Linked DNA regions of Homo sapiens: regions 1, 3, 4, 5 and 6 are each reported to be linked to region 2. Evidence: microRNA targets listed by miRTarBase, many of them from high-throughput screens and not tested one by one. Region 2 holds a microRNA gene; each other region holds the end of a gene's coding sequence.

Region 1 (3,385 bases), not on the chromosome of region 2:
CTAGTGTGTATATTTAGTTGGTTGAGGCACTTCTTTCTAATCATGAAAAGTTGAGCAACTATATGCTACCATAGTGCTGAGCCACCAGTTATTTTTGCACATTAACAAGTGGAGCCCTAGTTTAACTCTAAAAATCGCCATGTAGAGCTTACTTATACTTTCAAATAAATTTACATGAATTTACTTAATATATTAAAATGCCACTTAAGTAATTCCATAAACTATGGCTCAGCAGTCCATCTTTCCTTGAGAGTGGCCCTGGTTAATCTTTATGTTAATTTTTTTCCAAGACTCCTGGGTTTTACAGTTAAGAGGTTCAGTTAATCATTAAACTGTATCGTTGTTAGCACGTAGGTAGCTTTATATTACTTGTACCAACAAAACTTAATTTTTGACACACCTCTAATAACATCACTTTTCTGTTTTGGAAGATCAAAGCCATCGGCCAGACAGAGTTGAATGCAAGCAATCCAGAAGAAGTGTTACAGCTGGCAGCGCAGAGAAGGAAAAAAAAGTTTCTCCAAGCAATGGCAAAACTTTACTTTTAAGCAGTTAAATTTTTTTAACTTTTATTTTTTAAACAATGGGCTAAAAATAAACAGTATTAAAAGGTTAAGTTTATATAATACATATGTACACAATTAGTGGTGTTTTCTTTTCAGACAAAATACTGAAACAAATATTAGTTTAAAAACAAACTATACAGAAGACTTCATACCGTAACAATAAATGTATAGTTTCTTCAAAGGGAGAAGAGATTCACATATCTGATAACAAAATAAACTAGCAATCTAGTTTTCTAATCTACTTTATGAGGCTGGATTTTTTTTTTAGAAAAGCTAATTTAAAATATTTAGAAATAGCTAGCCTATGTACAGCAAGTTTTCATGTCTTTTTTTAATAAATAGATTTCTAGGAGTCAGTATATATTTAATACTCTTCTTCCTTAAGAAAATAGAAGTTTAGGTCAAGTGTTAAGCTTTATCACTTTGACACTGTCCTTATCTCACAATGGAGGAATTTAGAAAGGACCTTAACAGTTTCACAAACATAAATAAAGCCTTAGTCACACTAAATTAAAAAAAAAAATTCCTTAGGGATATCTTAGAGTAGTAAAGTGACTTCCTCATATAAATAGTTTGAAAGGGTACTTAAGTTTTTCACCCAAATTGTGATATACAAAAAGGTTATTACCAAGCAACCTACATGTCAAGAAAGCCCCAGTTAGGAAGGAGCCACAGCATTTATCTTGTTTATAATTTCTTTGGTACTCCCACTGTTTAGAGCACAGGTTGAACACCATGTTCATCTAAGCCTTATTAGTTAAAAAATGTGTTATGGCAAGGCAAATAAACTAGTTTAAAAAACATTAAATTTCACCATTTGTAGAAATTCAAGTTTTATAATAGCTTGCTATAGCAGCTATAGATAAATTAGTCACCTTATTACAAAACTAAACCTTTGTAAACAAGTTTAAATTTAATTTTCAAGAACCAAATTGCACTAGTCAAGAGTGTAGGAATTTTGAGAATCTAACAACTAGATTCAAAGTACTGTATCACTTAGTATACCCTTTAAGGTAGCACTTATCCAGTCCAAAACTCCAGTGACAAAATTCCTAGTTTATCAAGATAAACACAGTAACACTGGATTAAAGGAAAAACATTGCTATGGTATAGACTGTGGTTGGCTTCTATCCAGTAACCTTGGGAATGAAGACATCTTTGTAAACAAGTCCTGCTGTTTCTTTAACAGCTAACATAGGAAATAATTAAATGTATTCTTTAGTGCCAATTGTAAGTTTTAAAATCAGAATGGCAGTGTAACTTGTGAATTGGCTAGGGCAATCAATCACAGCACTACTTTCTGTAAAACTTTAGTAGTTCAGTGATACCAGTTCTACCCAATCTTGGTGAATTCCAACTTGTTTGCTTAGTTATCTTCTTTAGTGTTTTCCTGGTGGTTTTTCAGTGCTCTTCGGTGGTGTCATAATGCCTCCATTGCACACTGGTGACAACTGTCCCCCTTTTCTGAAGGTGTTTATGTAATTTACTTCCTCCTATACATGGGAAGAAATCATGCACTGATTTCATAAATCAAAGTCAAACCAGACTTCTGGGTACTTATTTGAGATTATTTAGGCCTAATTTTAATAGTCTTTTTATGTCTTTGCAAGTGTGAAGGGTCATATTCTGAAAGTTTCTGTAACGTTATATATTTTTTAAACTCTTTATCTAGACTGTTGGCATTGATCTTGAGACACTTCACAAATCTTGCTTTGATTTCAAAGTAATTTTATTAACTTTTCTACATTTTGAAATCAGTGTGCCCCTTAGAACTTTCTTTCCCCTGAAACTGCCTGAAGGAGTACTCTATTCCTACCATCAGTTTTGGTGACTTACTAGATTCAGATAGCAAAGCCAAAAAACTCACAAAAAAACATACCAGCATAGCCAAATAGTTTGTATGTGTCTGGATATTATGTCTGTCTTCCATAGGAATCTTCTTAAAAGTCTTCAGCTTCACTGGACTAGTACTTTTTACTACATTGACAAAAGGTACCATCCAATCTACACATTCTGAAATACTGTCCCACTCCAAACCTAGATAGATAGAAAAAAGTTAGAAAAGCATGAAGGTTGTACATCAGAAACTATCTTACATATGTCTGATGTACTTGTTGCTGTTTTTGAGATATTTTAAAAGAAACCAAATCATAACCAAGAAGTTTAGCATGTCAAAACAGATTATCACTCTCAAACTATTTACATGACTATGTTGAAGGGAAAAAGGACTTCAGAACTTCTTAACCAGTACCTTCTACATATGAAATTGAAATGGTCAAATCCCAAAGAACTCTTAAAGCAGAACTATAATGTTGATTCATTTCAACTGTATTTAAATTCCATTTGGTCTTTTTGTTGATACACATTCAGGATTGGAAAGTACTTCTAACAGAAAGATAATTACTGAACAGCTAATTTTTTTTTTGCCAAAGTTTTAAATGCATGTTTAGCAGAATGTTAAAGTTCAGAGACTGTAGTCCCATTAGAAGTTGTGAAAAGGTAAGAAGACAACAAATAGAGAGTCTTACCTGAGGCTTTCTTAACCACTTCAATGGAGGTAAAATGGCACAAGGCAGCAGCAGTCAGTATTCTGTACTGGAACTCTAATGAATCAATGGCTAGAATACACAGATCTAAAAGCTAACAGGAAAAACAAAAGTACAAGCAATTTAGGAGAAAGATGAGTACTAAATGTCTCTTGCTAAAACCTTAGGGATCTAGAGATAAATAAGCCACCACCCGGCCAGGCGCGGTGGCTCACGCCTGTAATCCCAGCACTTTGGGAGGCCGAGGCGGGTGGATCACAAGGTCACGAGATC
Region 2 (3,423 bases):
GTGCTGGCGCCCCAGGAGACGCGCCCCCTCCTCTCCCTCCCTGCGGCGCGGTGACTCAGCCTCGCTGCCCGGGCCGGCTGAGCGGGGGTGCAGGCGAGAGACGGACGCCCACCCCCGCTTCCCCGGCCCTCCTGGGACCCCCGCCCCGCATGGCGTCGGGCGCCCCTTCCCGGCAGGTCCCGTCCAGCGGGTCCCGCGGCGCCCACGGCTTCCCGCCTCTGCGAGCGGAGCTGTCCTCTCAGGACCGGGGGGGCGGGGCCTCCCAGGTCCCGCCCCGCCCCCACGCCCCCGCCGGAAGTGCCCCCTCTGGGACATCTTTGACGTCACGGCCCTCTGACGTCAGGGGCCGCGTGCCTGGTCGCGAGCGCCGGGCGGGGCAGGGCGGGAGACGCAGGGGAGGCGGAGCAGCAGAGCCCCCAGCCGGGGCAGCCGGGGCGACCGGGGCACCCCGCCCGGACAGCGCGCCGGCACCTTGGCTCTAGACTGCTTACTGCCCGGGCCGCCCTCAGTAACAGTCTCCAGTCACGGCCACCGACGCCTGGCCCCGCCCCAGGACCGCGGCCCCGGCCGCCGCCGCCGCGCCCGGGGACCCCCAGTCCCCGTCCCTCAGGGCCCCGCCCCCGGCCCGCTGCCTGCGCCGCCGCTGTCCGCGGTGCTGATCAACGCAGGCGCCGCCATCGGGCCGCCCCGTCCGGGTCCCTAGGGGCTGCGAGGGGCGGTGGCCCACGCGCGCTCCTCAGCCCCCGCCGCCCCGCCCGCCCCCCCGCGGCCCTGACGTCAGCCCGCCCCGCGCCGGCGCCGTCCGCGCGCCCCGCCCCCGCGTCTCCAGGGCAACCGTGGCTTTCGATTGTTACTGTGGGAACTGGAGGTAACAGTCTACAGCCATGGTCGCCCCGCAGCACGCCCACGCGCCGCGCCACGCCGCGCCCCGAGCCGCGGGCTGGGGACGCGGAGCAGAAGGAGGCGGGGGCGGCGAGTCAAGATCCCACGTGCCCGCGCGGGTGGCAGGAGGTGCTGCGCAGGGAGGCGGCCTCCCGGGGCCGGCGGCTGAGTCCACCGAGGCTCGAGCGCGCGCGTCCTGCGGAGTGCGTCTGGCGGCCAGCCTGAGGCCGTCCTGTCCTCCCGGCCAAGGTATCCCAGCCAGGGCTCGGCGAGAGAAGGGGTCGGGCTGGGACTCGGGTTCTTTCGATTTCGGTGAGAGGGAAGCCACTGGGACCAGGAGGCTTGGAAGGAGGTTTGTCTCCTGGGGCCTGAAGACAGTAGAGGGAGGAAAGTTTTCTGAGATACTCCACAGCCCCGTTCTTCCAGGAACCCCTAGCTGAAGTGGGCATTGGGCGAAGAGTAAACTCTTGAATCTTTCCCTCTGAGCTAGGAGGATAAGAAGGGTCCCCAACCCTCTGGAAGCCAATGAGCTTGTAAAGTTAACCTGGTCCGCGAAGCGTCTGAACAGATCAGCCTGCTCACCTCAGCCTATCTCTAGGTGCTGGATTCCAATCTGAGACAGTTTCTCAAATTAGCCCTAAAGAGGAGTGAATACCACAGGGGCTGAAGTCCTCTGGTGCGGATGAAGTGTGAACAAGGATCTCTAAAAATATTATTGTATATGTCGCCTGCCTCTGCCAACATCACCCACTACAGGGGATGTCTATTGAATATCAGGTGTGAGACTTCCCCAGAGATAGTGTTGGGAATGGTTAATGCAACCCAGCCCACGACACGTTAATCCAATTTTTCTTAACGTCTCACGCCCCACCCCCTCCTTCACTCCCCACCCGGCTCCTTTGTGAAGTACTTCTAAGACACTCGTGCCGGTTTCCCAGTTAATCAACACCCACATGCTAGCCATCCCACCTCCCCAGGGCCCCGAGGTCTTGCAGATTAAAACGCACTTGCTTCTGGGTTCCAGGGGATGTCAGTGGGTGGACTGCAGTGGACTGCTGGGTGTAGTGCTCTGGGAAGCCAGAGGTCCAACCTGGCATTATCAGCAACTGGTGGTTAAGGGGCCATATTCTGTTTCTGAGCTTTCTGTAAAACGGGATAATAATCTCTTCTCCTCGGCAGGTGCACTGTGAGGATTAAATAGGATCATGTAAGTAAAAATCCAAAAACAGCAGAATGTTATTTTGATCTTAAGTATTCTGTTAGGCTACTACATGTTTGTGAAGGGGTGGTGTTGGGAGGGGACCCCAGCTCTGTGCACTTAGGCAGAATGAACGGGATGTGGGGGGTACACCTTGAGCTTTAGGCTATATATATTTATTGTCTAATATATATATAATCTATATTATATATATGTTATACATACATATACTTTTATTTTTTTTCTTCTGAGACAGTCTCGCTCTGTCGCCCAGGCTGGAGTGCAGTGGCACTATCTCGGCTCACTGCAACCTCCGCCTCCCGGGTTCACTCTGGGCCTGGGGCTGTTGAGAGGTTCCTTGCTAAGGGGGTTCTCTCTCCTAAGAGCTCTAGGAATCCAAGGTGGAATCAGAGGTGGAAAACAGAAATGGTTGGGATATTCTGAGAAGAGGTCAGAATGTGGTCAGAGGGGAAAGAACCAGAGGATTGACCGTACGTCAGGGTTGTTTAGCATCTTAGAAATCATTTAGGGCAGGGCACAGTGGCTCACGCCTGTAATCCCAGCACTTTGGGAGGCATAGGTGGGAGGATCTCTTGAGCCCAGGAGTTCGAGACCAGCCTGGGCAATACAATGCGACTCCCATCTCTACAAAAAAGAAAGAAAGGAAAGAAGAAAGGAAAGAAAAGAAAGAAAATTAGTTGTGCACACCTGTAGTCCCAGCTACTTGGGAAGTTGAGGTGGGAGGATTGCTTGAGGCTGGGAGGTTGAGGCTGCAGTGAGCTGTGATTGCACCACTGTACTCCAGCCTGGATGACAGAGTGAGACCCTGTCTCAAAAAAAAAAAATCATTATTTAGGGCTGGGAGACATGGCTCATGCCTGTAATCACACCATTTTGCGGGGCGGGGCAGAGGCTGGAGGACTGCTTGAGCCCAGAAATTCGAGACCAGCCTGGGCAACATAGTGAGACCCCATGTCTTAAAAAAAAAAAAGCCAGTGTGATAGGTGGCACCTGTAGTCTCAGCTAAGCTACTCAGGAGGCTGAAGCGGGAGGGTCACTTGAGCCGAAGAGGTCGAGGCTGCAGTGAGCCATGATCCTGCACCTGGTGACAGAGGTAGACCCTGTCTTAATAATAATCCAGCCTGGCCAATATGGTCAGACTCCGTCTCTACTAATAACACAAAAAATTAGCCAGCCATGGTGGTGCTTGCCAGTAATTCCAGCTGCTTGGGAGGCTGAGGCACTAGAATCACTTGAACCCAGGAGACGGAGGTGCAGTGAGCCGTGATCGTGCCACTGAACTCCAGCCTGGGTGGCTGAGTGACACTCCGTCTCAAATAATA
Region 3 (3,423 bases), not on the chromosome of region 2:
GCAGCCTCTGCCCGCAGCCTGTTCCGTCACGACCCCCCCGCCCCACCCCAGAGTCTCAGCTTCCTCGTTCAGAAGAGGGGCCTATGCCGTCCTATGAGAAGTGGGTGGGCACATGGTGGGTGCTCAGGGAGGACCACAGCCACCCAGACGGGGGTCAGGCCACGTGACGGTGAGGGCCCTCCATCCTCCCGCCATCCCCATCACTGTCCACACCCCCCAGGCAGCTGCTCTGCTGACTCAGGACCGTCCAAGGCCAAGGTGGGGTCACAGCCCTGCCAGCCGCCCCCAAGGCCAGGGTAGCCCCCAGCCAGGCTTAGAGTAAGGGGGTCTCTGCAGGCCCATTCAGCACGTCAGCACTCTTCTGGAGGGGGCAGCGACGGGGGAGGGCAAGGCACCCCCCCATAGAGAGGCACTTTTCACAGTGTGTCGTCTCCTTGGAGCAGAGTGGGGGGTGCAGAGGCACCAGGAGGGGGACCTGGAGCCCTGGGGTCGGGGGAAGCAGGGTCAGGCCAGAGCAGGAACTTGCAAGGGGCGCGGCCAGGGCAGTGCCAGGCCAAGGGTGTAAGCCCCAGGGAAGGGGTGGGGGCTCATGGTGAAGAGGAAGTGAGCCGCCCCGGGGCTGCCAGGAGGGTGAGGGGAGGGAATCCCCGCAGAGGCTGCAGCACCCGTCCCCTACTCAGTCACCCTCAAAGGCTGGATTTGAGGAAGGAAAAGCACCGCAGAGCTGCTGTATTTAAAAAACAAGCGTCTGGATCTCTGCAGGGGCTGGGACCAGCTGCAGTGGGGGCTCCGGCACTGCTCCTGCTCTCCAGGACTCTTCCCACCACCCCTGAGCGGGGTCGGGGCCTGGGGCCACATCACAGGAGAGGGAGGTGCAGCATTACCAGCTGTGGGGCGGCCGGACCCACGGCCTGCCTGGCTTGGAGTCTGAGCGCCTCCCCAGCCCACCAGCATGGCTGCTGGACCTTGGGCATCAGCTGCTCCGTGCCTCAGTTTCCCCACCTGCAAAGTGAGGCGATGATGTGGACTCTGTGAGCTCGTGGCAGGAGTGAAGTTGGATAAGGAGGCCCCAGGCCCGGTCACAGGAGTCACTGTCCCTCCTGCAGGGGCTGGGCTCCCCAGTGGCCAGACCAGGCCAGAGCCTTGGGGTTGTGCTTTTGGCTGGGACCTAGAGCCCCCAGCATCCTAGACCTGTTCCTCCTGGAAGCACAGGGCTCACGCTCCAGCGACCACCCTGACCCTGGGTGGGCCGCACCTGTAGTCACCAGCAGGCAGCTATAGTGACGCCAGGTTTCGTTCCAAAATAGTTGTCTCTAAGCGTTTCCTATCTACCTGCTCCATGCGGTGCACCCAAGGCCAAGCCTCCCCTTCACCTGTGTGCCTCTCCTGACCCTGGCTGCCCTGGGGCTTAGGCCCCACCTCCAGCCAAGACCAGGACCCCCAGGATTGCTGCAAAGAGCACCTTTATTCACAGCAAAAGGACGTCACCATAGCAACAACACTTCAATTCCCTGAGAACTTTTCCCTTATCATTCGCTTTCCTAGCTATGTCTTTGCAAAGAGAAAAACAACAAGAAACACAGCCCACGGGACAGGTGAGCCATGCTGGGCCCAGCGGGGAGGTGGCAGCTACACAGGAGGAGGGCAGGGATGGGAGGTTCCAGATGCTGGAACGCATAAATACACAGAGTGCCAGACAGTCCCACTTCAGCTTTAAAAACAAAGATGACCCCGAGTTTGGCTTCTGTTTTTTCTGATCCACAGAAAAGATAAGATAAAATAAGACCCTCCCCCACCCCCACCCTCCCAAGCAAAAAACAAGAACACCCTACTTTTTACCCATCCCCTTTCAAAAAAAACAGCACAGTAAAAAAATACTGTCACAATATTTACAGACACGCCCACTGTGGGCGACTTGCTCTCTACTTTGGAGAGGAGATTAAATGCTGAGCTCTGACTCACCCTGTCCTGGGGAGGCAAAGGGAAGACCTCTGAGGAGGCCTGGAAGACTCCCCACTCAGAAGAGCTGGGAGGGGTGCCACTGTTTGCCCAGCTGGACAGCCAGCCACTGGGGGCTTCGTGGGGCCACTGGAACTGGGCGGTGGCTGCTGTTACTCTTAAGCCACAGCGTCCAGGCCAGGAGGAAGGGGATTGGGTCACGCACCCCCAGACCCAGCCTCCCCTGCAATGAGCATGGCTCAGTGAGTCGTACTTGGGGCTATGACACAGGGGCCAGGACTTCAGGGCACAGGTACCCCCAGCACAGAGCTTGTGGTCAGCAGGAAGAGAAAGGCACCTACGCATCGCATCCCTGCAAAGTAGCCCGGAGCCCCGTAGCTGTAGAAAGATCCAAAAATCCTAACAGAATTGCCCTCGGAGTGGCCTCCGACACACAAATCCTTCCTCCAAGCAGGCCCTGCAGCCCACTGGCCCTCGGAGCAGAGGCACATAAGTGGCGCTGGTGCCCGCCCCTCCACAGAGCAGAACTGCCCAGCAGCCTGCTACCCGGGTGGGCATGCAGTACACACACACACACACGCACACGCACACGCACAGGCACGGCCCTAGGGGAGCCTCGAATGCCGAGGCCAGGGCAGCGCAACAGGGTCCCTGGGCCCTTTGGATACCAGGGGCGCCCAGGGATTGGGTCTCAGCCATGGCCACTAGAAGATGGCAGTGCGGGGACACCAGGGTGTGTCCGGGTACAGGTGGCAGTGGATGGAGCGGAACCTGTGGGAACAGAGCAGGGGCTGGTCTGCGTGGGTGGCAGGCAGGTGCTGAGCTCCCATTTGCAGTCCCACAACACTGGCGGCCCCACCCCGAGCAAGCAGGACTCCGGGGGACACCTCTATGTAGAGTCATGCCGCTTAGAGAGACCCTGCTGCAGCTCCACGAGGCCCCCTGACGCCCCTAGGCCACCCTACGCAAGCCCATCTGGGCCGGGGTTTCCTTACCTGGATGGGTCGGCCTCCACCGAGAAGGGCCCCTTCACGTGGACGGCGTTCCGCTTGTTTTCAAACATACCGTAGCTCAGCGTCACCTGTGGGGAGCGGGCGGAGTGATGCCGGGAGGGGCCCGACATCCCTGGGCCCCGCCCCAGGCTGGCCACACAGCCCTGAGTGAGGCAACGGCCCTGCCCTGGCCTCCCTTGGACCTGGAAGGACACCTGCCCTGCACACCCCAGGAATAAGGTCCCAAACTGGGGACCAGCTGGGGCTGGCTGCATTGCCAGCGTGGACAAAATACGCACAGTAGGCGCATCACAGTGAAGAGAAGAGACGGCAGGAAAACAACCCGCCATAAACAGCTTTGAGCTCATGGCAGGAGTGACCCCCCCTGGCTGACAGTGGAGTGCTGCCTGGCCTCCCTGTTTAGAACAGTGCCCCACCCCACTGCGCCCCTCTCGGCAGCCACACGTCCCTT
Region 4 (3,363 bases), not on the chromosome of region 2:
CAACCTTCCTCGTGGTGTTGCTGCCCCCCTGACGTCCGTCCCTCTGGGTGTGTGGGAGCCCCCCCGCCATACACACACACAGATGCTGCTCTTGGGCTGAGCTGCAGGGACAGCGCTGACCTGGCCCTCCCACGGGGTCCTCATCGATCTCTGCACTCCCCCAGCTCGTGGGGGCCGTCCTGCTTCCCGTTCCCTCTGCCTGCTCCTTGCTCCTCCCTCACATGCTGGGGGGGGCTCCTGGTGTCAGTCACGGCTCTGGGGGATCCTGAGTGTCCGTCGTGGTCGGGAGGGGACTCGTGGTCCCGGGGGTCTCCTGGTATCTGTCGTGGTCCTGAGGGCCCTGCACGAAGCACAGCGGACAGCAGCGGTGCTGGGGGTGAGCCAGCAAGGCCCTCCCCGACCCCCGCCTCCCCCAGGCATCCTGGAGATCCGCTCTGTACACGTGGGCGTCGTGGTCATCAAAGCAGTGTCCTCAGGCTTCTACGTGGCCATGAACCGCCGGGGCCGCCTCTACGGGTCGGTGAGTGCCGGGCAGGGCTGGGCGGCGCGGGCAGGGTGGGGAGGGTGGGCCGGCCTCACCCCCGCCCGCAGCGACTCTACACCGTGGACTGCAGGTTCCGGGAGCGCATCGAAGAGAACGGCCACAACACCTACGCCTCACAGCGCTGGCGCCGCCGCGGCCAGCCCATGTTCCTGGCGCTGGACAGGAGGGGGGGGCCCCGGCCAGGCGGCCGGACGCGGCGGTACCACCTGTCCGCCCACTTCCTGCCCGTCCTGGTCTCCTGAGGCCCTGAGAGGCCGGCGGCTCCCCAAGGTGCCTGGGCTGGTGGCGAGGGGCCCGGCCACGCTTGTTCTTCCCCCTGCGGGCTCTGTAAGCGCTGAGTGCCCACCGTGTGCGGGCGCTGTGGACACAGCCCAGGAGCCCTCCAGGGGGGTCCCAGCCTGAGGGGGTGGTGGCCACCAAGCAGGTTCAATCCTGAGTTGGGGACCTCGAGGACCCAACAGGGCGCCTCTCGGGCTGAAGGACGCAGACGTCGAAAGGTCGAGGGGGACGTCCCAGGCAGGGCCCGGCAGAGGCAGGGGCTCGGGGTGGGGAGCACGTTGGGAGTGGGGGCAGGAGCGGAGGGGAGGGGAGGGGGCCGGGGAGACGGTGACAGACGCCGCAGAACACCAGCCTCGAAGCCGGTCCCGTCCCGGGAATCTGCAAATACAACGCCTTGCGAGGACAAAGGCACCTGCAGGTGGGACGGAGATGGAGGAGCATCCAGGGTGGGGGGTCCAGGGCCCCAGTGTCCTCACAGGGTCCTCACGACAGGAGGCGGGACAGTGAGAGCCAGAGAGAGATGGGGATGGGCCGCGCTGTGGCCGTGAAGGGGAGGAAGGGCCCTAAGCTGAGGGACGTGGGTGCCTCCAGATGCTGGGGAAGGCGGGAACGGTTCCGCACTGGAGCCCCCGGGAGGGACCGGCCTGCTCCTGCCTTGATATGAGCCCAGTGGGACCCAGTTTGGACTCTGGCCTCCAGAACCGCCAGAAAATAAACGTAGTAAGCCATCAACTTTGTGGTCTTTTGTTACAGCAGACGTCGGAAATATGCACACGGTGTCTGAAACTGTTCTCATGACAAAATAAGCCTCAGATCCCCCGGGGAAGGGCGGAGGCCAACGCCTCGGTGTTCCTCCGATCCCCCGGGAAGGGCGGAGGCCGACGCCTCGGTGTTCCTCGGATCCCCCGGGAAGGGCAGAGGCCGACGCCTCGGTGCTCCTCAGATCCCCCGGGAAGGGCAGAGGCTGAGGGCAGGAGCCGTGCTGGGTGCAGGGCAGGCCTGGGGGCTTCATGCCGCTGTCCTGCGGGACGCAGAGAGGGCTGGCCGTCGGTGTGGGGGCGCCCCCACCTGTGCCCAGCGCCCTCCTGACATCCTGACTCCGCTGGGACTTCTGCCTACAGCCCTGGGAGTCAAACTCCAGCCTCTCAGAGAAAAGGTCAGAGCCAAGAGCCCCACAGCCTGGAGCCAGGCAGTGACACCCTGGGCCTGTCTCCCCTTCTGTGTGTGGGGCGACAGCAGCATCGCCCTGGTGAAGTCCCCGGGGACGGCCAGGGCTCCATCCCCAGCCGCCGCCTTCCACATAAATACAGGAAGACTGGGCCGAGGCACTTGCTGGGAGGTGCTGAGCAGCCTGACACGGAAAACCCTTCTGGGAAGGGAGGGTCGTGCCCGGCCCGAGAGCTTCTGCTCACCCTGCAGACAGAAGCGAGCCCCACCCCAGGGGACACCAGGCGGCCTCTGGGGACATCTTTGGCTGGCATGGAGTGGGTGGAGGACAGGGCTGCACCCAGGATGTCCCCAGGTTGGCAGTGTGAGGGGAGATCGGCCCACGTTGGCCAGTCGGAGGGCGTCGCCACTTGAGTTGTCACTGGGAGCTGCACAGGTCACCACAGCTGAAATAAAACTTGCTGGCACCCCACGCAGGAACGTAACATGTGCCTCGAAGAAACGGGTCAGCAGGCCGGGCGCGGGGGCTCACGCCTGTCATCCCAGCACTTTGGGAGGCCGAGGCGGGTGGATCACGAGGTCAGGAGATCAAGGCCATCTTGGTCAACATGGTGAAACCCCGTGTCTACTAAAAATACAAAAAATTAGCCGGGCGTGGTGGCGGGCGCCTGTAATTCCAGCTACTTGAGAGGCTGAGGCGGGGAATCGCTTGAATCCGGGAGGCGGAGGTTGCAGTGAGCTGAGATCGCGCCACTGCACTCCAGCCTGGGCGACAGAGCGAGACTCCGTCTCAAAAAAAAAAAAAAAAAAGAAACAGGTCAGCAGTTGTTTCTTTGTTTCTAAAACAGAGCGTGGAATGGGCGTACAGCTCCGCACATCCCAGGGCAGTGAAATCCCGGTTCACACAGAGCCCTCAGCAGCTTATTCGCAAGCCCAAACCTGGGGACCCCCGTTGTCCTCAGGCAGTGAGGTGGGGGCCCCCCAACAGAGAGGAGCGGCCTGGGGGCACAGAACCAGCGGCTCCCCAGGAAATCGCCAGCAGTGAAAATAAGACAACCCCAAACTGTTGCAAACTGTGCTTCCGCTTACGAAGCACTCCTGAGCGGCAGGGCGGATGGGGAGAGGGCGGCTGCAGGCGCGAGGGGCCCGGGGACGCAGGGGTGCGGGCCTTACCAGGGCCCTGTCCTGTCGTGCAGCAGGCTCCTGGGGCAGGGAAGACACCAGGGGCGGCCACTTCTTACTGCTGTCTGACCTCGAGCAATGCGGCCTCACAGCCCCCACCAGGGTGCCGGTGTCCTCTGGGCCCAGCGCCCCCGAGGCTCATGCCTGGGTGGGGCGAACCAATCGGTCCTGCTCCTCTGGCCACTCCACGC
Region 5 (3,423 bases), not on the chromosome of region 2:
CTGAGAATCATAAGTATTAGAGATTTGGGCAATGTTCTCCACAGGTGTATTCAGTATTGTCGCCTAGTATTAATTATGTGTTCATTATGCATTTGTACCAATGTACCTTAATGGAATTTAAAAAAGAAGTCTTTGAAGTGACTTTTTATCTATCACTAGCCAAAATGATCGTCTCAACTCTTCCTAATCAGAAGAGTCACTGGTCAAATACCACAAAATTGGAATCTTAATCATTTTTAAGCCTAAGCCAGTGGCTCACTTATTGGAACAAGGATCATACTACAGAAGGATTTGAACAGCTCTTAAAGTTAGAAAATAGAGAATTTGATCCACAAAACATTTTGGGGTGGATATGCCAAAAACTAAACCAAACTGATTTAGAAATTTTTATTTTGACAGAAGCGATCCAAGCAGCGGAAGTTACAGCAGAAGGCCTTCCGCAAGAGGCAGCTGAAGGAGCAGAGGCAGGCCCGGAAGGAGAGGCTCAGTGGGCTCTTCCTTAACGAAGAGGTGCTGTCCTTGAAAGTGACTGAGGAAGACCATGAAGCAGATGTTGATGTTTTGATGTAATAAGGGTGAATTTATCAACGTTCTTTGTGAGCATTAAAATACTCCATCCTTATGGGTTTACATGCATCTTGACCAAAATTTTGGTTAGGGCTGTGCTGATGTACCATTAATAATTTAAGCCAGTGGTTCTTGGCAGGTGATCCCAAGACCTGCAGCTTCAGCATCACTTGAGAAGTTGTTAGGAATGCATACTAGTGGGCCCCGCCCCCAGACATAGTGAATCAGAAACCAACAGGGAGGCGCCTAGCATTGTTTTTTTAACAAGTGCTGGGTTATTCTGATGCACAGTCTAGTTTAAGAACCACTACTTTGGGTAAACGTTTTGACTGTTTAAAGTTTATGGCGGTGAAGTGGGCGTCTTCAAAGACTAGTACTTACACAGTTTAGAAGATTTCAAGGTACTGCTGACAGTAGTTTATTATGTCAGTATACATACATGTGTAGAGATCATAATTTAGTTCCCTTCTTAATGTTACAATTTCTTAGTTTACTTTTCCTAAAGGGCCATAGCATAATTCTTGATTCCTGGTGGAAATCTTTTCTGAGGTGTGGGGGTGGGCAAGGTGTGGATTGCTGTTTACGATAGTGCCTTCATTAGTTTTAGTTCTGTCTGTTTTCATTCATTATTGACTCAAAGGTATTAGAACAGGCCCTTATCTTTTTCCTATTAGATTTATTTTTGTTTTTTACTTTATGTAAGTTCAGAATCCTTTTTTAAGTGATGACTACTGATGAAATAATGTTACTAGTAGCTGAATTTTAGACTTGATGCTATGTTGATTAATATTTAAATGGTGAAAGTAATTAGGCAAAATAAGCAATTCTGCTTTTCTGTTGCTTTCAGAATTTTTAGGCTGTAAAATTGTCTCAGGCAGGAAGTCAGTCTATATCTCTCTCAAGTTCTTATTGTAGGTCATTTTTTTTTCAGCACAGCTCTAATTTTTAAATATTTGGTATAACAGCTTCTGGCATGTGACCTAGTTAATGTTGAAAATTAACTGATGAAAACCCTTGTAGATCTGCTAAACTTCTCTATAAATTGCTAGAAATATACAGAGCAATGAGATATAGAAAACACCTTAGCTTGTTGGTTATTAATAGAGCTCTAATTTTAACTGTGAAATCATGGAGTTTCTTTAAATGTTTTCCTAGAGTGTTTGTTATCATGAACATTAGAAATAGCATTATTCCTTTTCTTCTACCACATGTCTTGAACATTCACATGGGTTAAAGAAGATGGAAACTGATACTACTGACAATCAAGCTGCTTTCTGACTTTCATAATTTTCTTTATATTGTGGATAGCATTTTGAAGGTGACCGTGATTCTGTAGGAAGAGCTGTAATCAATATTTTTCAAACTCTAAGAGTACAGAGGTTAGTAAGATTTCTTTTTTTTTTACTTTTTGTTACGTCAAGTAGCTTATTAAGAAAAAGATTCATGACTTAAATTCTTAATTCTCAGTTGATACAAAGGCTTATAATCATGTGTTTTAAAATTTTGATTTCATTTTCGTTCCTTGAAGGTTAAAGAATGGAAACTGGGGATAAAAATTAATACACTGCAGCTTTGCCAAGGTCTGTGATATGGTTGTAACCTTTTAAAGACTACTAAAGTCATAATTTGAAATTTTTACTAAAATAAAACATATGTGTCTATGGTTTTCAATTGGAGTAGTCTTTCTTACTTTCCCCCTTCCCCTCTTTGGTTCTCCTAACCAGCTTAGAGGACCCAAAGAGAGCTTAGGGATAGACACCAGAATACTCTGTGGAGGTGGAACAACTTAACCTCACTGTTTTCCCTTCCAAGTATAGGAAGAGCAAATAGAGCATAGTAACTGTATCTAAATTCTCTACCTGCTCTTAGCAAAAGCAAAATCCCACAGAATGATTGCCTGCTGTCTTTACCTATTCTTCAAGGAAAACAGGCCACTTTTGGAGACCATAGAGCACCATTTATCTGTCAAATACTTGGAAACTATTTACTTAACGGTCATCAGTAAAAAACCCTAAACAAGGTCATGATATAATTTAAGACCAATTCCCCTACTCTCCCAATAATCACATAGTCTTATTACTTTCAATTTAACTTGAGTCACTATTAAGCAAGTTTACCAAAGTGCCACAAAGTTGATTTTTAACGTTTGTAAAGGTTTGAATGTTTATAGAAGTGCATCATGAAATTTTGTGTAAATCCAGATGAACTGTCATTATAGTACTATAAATTAGAGATAGTCCATAAAGTTGGGTTGAAGGAGATTGAAAATATTTCCTTTGATTAAAAGAAAATAATTAACTAACTTGGGCTTGCTTGTGATTGAAGAGGGAGATTAGATAGTCCTCTGTCCCCCCAAAAAAGAAACTAGCAGAGAAAGACATAAAAAGCTCTTTGGTGTCTGTTCATGTGCTGTACATTTTTTCCGTTTTAATGTCTTGTGTAGATAATTCAAAGTTTGAACTATTTCTTTCTTGGAATAAGTAATAATTTATTCAATATGGTGTATCTCTGAGTTCAATTTAAAACAATCCAACTCAGTAATATTTATTTTTAAATACAAATCCTAACTAACCAATTAATTAATAAAAAGGCAAGACTTACTTGCTGTAGTATTGGTTCTCATCTGTAGAGAACTGACATTGGAGCAAATTTTAAGTCTCCCCTTTGAAAATAAGCCTTGTTAACTGAGGGCGTAATACATTTCCCACAGATTTATCCAGAAACATTTTATTAGAGATCTTATAGTAGTATCTCAGTTCCTACTACAGCTTTCTAAAGGATGAGACTTGCATTTAACAAAATGACATATATAATATTTTTCTATAGTTTTGCAACTGAATTAAAGGAAGGTGATGT
Region 6 (3,423 bases), not on the chromosome of region 2:
TTTCCTATGTAAAGTGATAATAAAAGGAAATAACGGCTAGCCTTACTCCTGAGATTTGATGACTTCTGGCTTTAAATTGGATTGCCCATTTCACAAGCTGAGTTTACCCCCCTTACGTATCACCTCCATTTCTGAAACAGGCATGTCAAGAATGAGTTTAATTTTCCTGTCTGTCTGATTTATTTCATATAGGCTCCCAGTCACAAGTACAGTGCCCACAGCAGCCATGTCACCAATGTCAGTTTTACTCACAATGACAGTCACCTGATATCAACTGGTGGAAAAGACATGAGCATCATTCAGTGGAAACTTGTGGAAAAGTTATCTTTGCCTCAGAATGAGACTGTAGCGGATACTACTCTAACCAAAGCCCCCGTCTCTTCCACTGAAAGTGTCATCCAATCTAATACTCCCACACCGCCTCCTTCTCAGCCCTTAAATGAGACAGCTGAAGAGGAAAGTAGAATAAGCAGTTCTCCCACACTTCTGGAGAACAGCCTGGAACAAACTGTGGAGCCAAGTGAAGACCACAGCGAGGAGGAGAGTGAAGAGGGCAGCGGAGACCTTGGTGAGCCTCTTTATGAAGAGCCATGCAACGAGATAAGCAAGGAGCAGGCCAAAGCCACCCTTCTGGAGGACCAGCAAGACCCTTCGCCCTCGTCCTAACACCCTGGCTTCAGTGCAACTCTTTTCCTTCAGCTGCATGTGATTTTGTGATAAAGTTCAGGTAACAGGATGGGCAGTGATGGAGAATCACTGTTGATTGAGATTTTGGTTTCCATGTGATTTGTTTTCTTCAATAGTCTTATTTTCAGTCTCTCAAATACAGCCAACTTAAAGTTTTAGTTTGGTGTTTATTGAAAATTAACCAAACTTAATACTAGGAGAAGACTGAATCATTAATGATGTCTCACAAATTACTGTGTACCTAAGTGGTGTGATGTAAATACTGGAAACAAAAACAGCAGTTGCATTGATTTTGAAAACAAACCCCCTTGTTATCTGAACATGTTTTCTTCAGGAACAACCAGAGGTATCACAAACACTGTTACTCATCTACTGGCTCAGACTGTACTACTTTTTTTTTTTTTTTTCCTGAAAAAGAAACCAGAAAAAAATGTACTCTTACTGAGATACCCTCTCACCCCAAATGTGTAATGGAAAATTTTTAATTAAGAAAAACTTCAGTTTTGCCAAGTGCAATGGTGTTGCCTTCTTTAAAAAATGCCGTTTTCTTACACTACCAGTGGATGTCCAGACATGCTCTTAGTCTACTAGAGAGGTGCTGCCTTTTCTAAGTCATAATGAGGAACAGTCCCTTAATTTCTTGTGTGCAACTCTGTTTTATCCTAGAACTAAGAGAGCATTGGTTTGTTAAAGAGCTTTCAATGTATATTAAAACCTTCAATACTCAGAAATGATGGATTCCTCCAAGGAGTCCTTTACTAGCCTAAACATTCTCAAATGTTTGAGATTCAAGTGAATGGAAGGAAAACCACATGCCTTTAAAACTAAACTGTAATAATTACCTGGCTAATTTCAGCTAAGCCTTCATCATAATTTGTTCCCTCAGTAATAGGAGAAATATAAATACAGTAAGTTTAGATTATTGAATTGGTGCTTGAAATTTATTGGTTTTGTTGTAATTTTATACAGATTATATGAGGGATAAGATACTCATCAAATTGCAAATTCTTTTTTTTACAGAAGTGTGGGTAACAGTCACAGCAGTTTTTTTTACCAACAGCATACTTAACAGACTTGCTGTGTAGCAGTTTTTTTCTGGTGGAGTTGCTGTAAGTCTTGTAAGTCTAATGTGGCTATCCTACTCTTTTGGGCAATGCATGTATTATGCATTGGAAAGGTATTTTTTTTAAGTTCTGTTGGCTAGCTATGGTTTTCAGTACATTTCCTACTTTAAGAGTAATTACTGACAAATATGTATTTCCTATATGTTTATACTTTGATTATAAAAAAGTATTTTGTTTTGATTTTTTAACTTGCTGCATTGTTTTGATACTTTCTATTTTTTTGGTCAAATCATGTTTAGAAACTTTGGATGAGTTAAGAAGTCTTAAGTATGCAGGCGTTTACGTGATTGTGCCATTCCAAAGTGCATCAGAACTGTCATTCCCTTCTAATATCTTCTCAGGAGTAATACAAATCAGGTATTTCATCATCATTTGGTAATATGAAAACTCCAGTGAACTCCCAAGGACATTTACAACATTTATATTCACACGCTGTATGGAAGGGTGTGGGTGTGTGTGAAGGGGCGAGTGGAGACACTGTGTGTATCTCTAGATAAGAAGATATGCACCACGTTGAAAATACTCAGTGTAGATCTCTATGTGTATAGGTATCTGTATATCTTTCCTTTTGTTTACAACTGTTAAAAAACCTCAAAATAGTTCTCTTCAAAAGAAGAGAGATTCCAAGCAACCCATCTTTCTTCAGTATGTATGTTCTGTACATACTTATCGGAGCGCGCCAGTAAGTATCAGGCATATATATCTGTCTGTTAGCAATGATTATTACATCATCAGATCAGCATGTGCTATACTCCCTGCAAGAAATATACTGACATGAACAGGCAGTTCTTGGAGAAGAAAGAGCATTTCTTTAAGTACCTGGGGAATACAGCTCTCAGTGATCAGCAGGGAGTTTATTTGAGGACATCAGTCACCTTTGGGGTTGCCATGTACAATGAGATTTATAATCATGATACTCTTCGGTGGTAGTTTCAAAAGACACTACTAATACGCAGGAAGCGTTCCAGCTATTTAATGCTGGCAACTACTGTTTAATGGTCAGTTAAATCTGTGATAATGGTTGGAAGTGGGTGGGGTTATGAAATTGTAGATGTTTTTAGAAAAACTTGTGAATGAAAATGAATCCAAGTGTTTCATGTGAAGATGTTGAGCCATTGCTATCATGCATTCCTGTCTCATGGCAGAAAATTTTGAAGATTAAAAAATAAAATAATCAAAATGTTTCCTCTTTCTAAGTGCGTCTTAACTCTTTCTTCATTTATACTGAGAGTTTCCATGACTATCCAGTTATCAGAAGGCATGACAATTCAGAAGACAACATTTATCAGTGGGCTACTGCTGCTGCTGTGGATAAAATCATTCTGGTAGTAACAAACTCCCATCTCATAATGTTAGAGGAAATTACTTCTGATTTATGCTCCCCCTGAATATGTGGATAGCTTTGTTTTCACTTATTTCATGTCAGCACTTTCTCTAATGTTTAATATTGGATAATCCTGATAATCTTCGTTACCCATCCGACTAGGCTGCCTCGCAGTGTTAGCCTTTGTGAAGTACTTGAACTCAGTAGGCCATGGCATTCTCTGCTTTCTCCCATCTCTCCCATGTTGCTTTTTAACGCAGATCTTCTGTATACCACAATCACAAATTG

Evidence for each region. Region 2 holds the annotated microRNA hsa-miR-132-3p (UAACAGUCUACAGCCAUGGUCG, at 870-891, shown strand). A microRNA usually pairs through its seed, bases 2 to 8, with sites in the 3' UTR of a target mRNA and lowers its output. Matches are read on the target gene's strand: a 7mer-m8 pairs with bases 2 to 8, a 7mer-A1 pairs with bases 2 to 7 and ends in A, and an 8mer does both.
Region 1: the mRNA of INTS8 is a reported target of hsa-miR-132-3p. The part of its 3' UTR that is shown has no 7-base or 8-base seed match.
Region 3: the mRNA of LFNG is a reported target of hsa-miR-132-3p. The part of its 3' UTR that is shown has no 7-base or 8-base seed match.
Region 4: the mRNA of FGF22 is a reported target of hsa-miR-132-3p. The part of its 3' UTR that is shown has no 7-base or 8-base seed match.
Region 5: miRTarBase lists FAM199X as a target of hsa-miR-132-3p. Seed matches in the 3' UTR shown: 7mer-m8 at 895-901.
Region 6: the mRNA of EML4 is a reported target of hsa-miR-132-3p. Seed matches in the 3' UTR shown: 7mer-A1 at 1,045-1,051 and 7mer-A1 at 2,389-2,395.

What each region holds. Positions count from the first base shown.
Region 1 is chr8:94,879,687-94,883,071 of GRCh38, forward strand. It overlaps INTS8 (integrator complex subunit 8), which reads left to right. Exons shown (of 27, transcript NM_017864.4): 27 at 432-2,060. The coding sequence ends at 548. CCNE2 (cyclin E2) reads right to left here. Exons shown (of 12, transcript NM_057749.3): 10 at 3,095-3,206; 11 at 2,446-2,603; 12 at 538-2,059. The coding sequence ends at 1,946. Among named protein-coding and RNA genes, the nearest start is that of CCNE2, 14 kb to the right of the region's middle.
Region 2 is chr17:2,047,397-2,050,819 of GRCh38, reverse strand. MIR132 (microRNA 132) reads left to right here and starts at 812; the gene lies at 812-912. It overlaps MIR212 (microRNA 212), which reads left to right and starts at 440; the gene lies at 440-549. It overlaps LOC124903896 (a long non-coding RNA gene), which reads left to right and starts at 871. Exons shown (of 2, transcript XR_007065576.1): 1 at 871-1,659; 2 at 2,062-2,113. RefSeq lists silencers at 157-306, 317-1,116.
Region 3 is chr7:2,526,453-2,529,875 of GRCh38, reverse strand. LFNG (LFNG O-fucosylpeptide 3-beta-N-acetylglucosaminyltransferase) reads right to left here. Exons shown (of 8, transcript NM_001040167.2): 7 at 2,955-3,040; 8 at 1,447-2,730. The coding sequence ends at 2,664. MIR4648 (microRNA 4648) reads right to left here and starts at 2,802; the gene lies at 2,731-2,802. RefSeq lists a silencer at 468-527 and enhancers at 1-532, 533-1,507.
Region 4 is chr19:642,819-646,181 of GRCh38, forward strand. It overlaps FGF22 (fibroblast growth factor 22), which reads left to right. Exons shown (of 3, transcript NM_020637.2): 2 at 417-520; 3 at 592-1,555. The coding sequence ends at 786. Among named protein-coding and RNA genes, the nearest start is that of FGF22, 4.6 kb to the left of the region's middle. RefSeq lists an enhancer at 1,327-2,267.
Region 5 is chrX:104,189,209-104,192,631 of GRCh38, forward strand. It overlaps FAM199X (family with sequence similarity 199, X-linked), which reads left to right. Exons shown (of 6, transcript NM_207318.4): 6 at 400-3,423. The coding sequence ends at 570. Among named protein-coding and RNA genes, the nearest start is that of FAM199X, 24 kb to the left of the region's middle.
Region 6 is chr2:42,329,542-42,332,964 of GRCh38, forward strand. EML4 (EMAP like 4) reads left to right here. Exons shown (of 23, transcript NM_019063.5): 23 at 193-3,007. The coding sequence ends at 666. Among named protein-coding and RNA genes, the nearest start is that of COX7A2L, 30 kb to the right of the region's middle.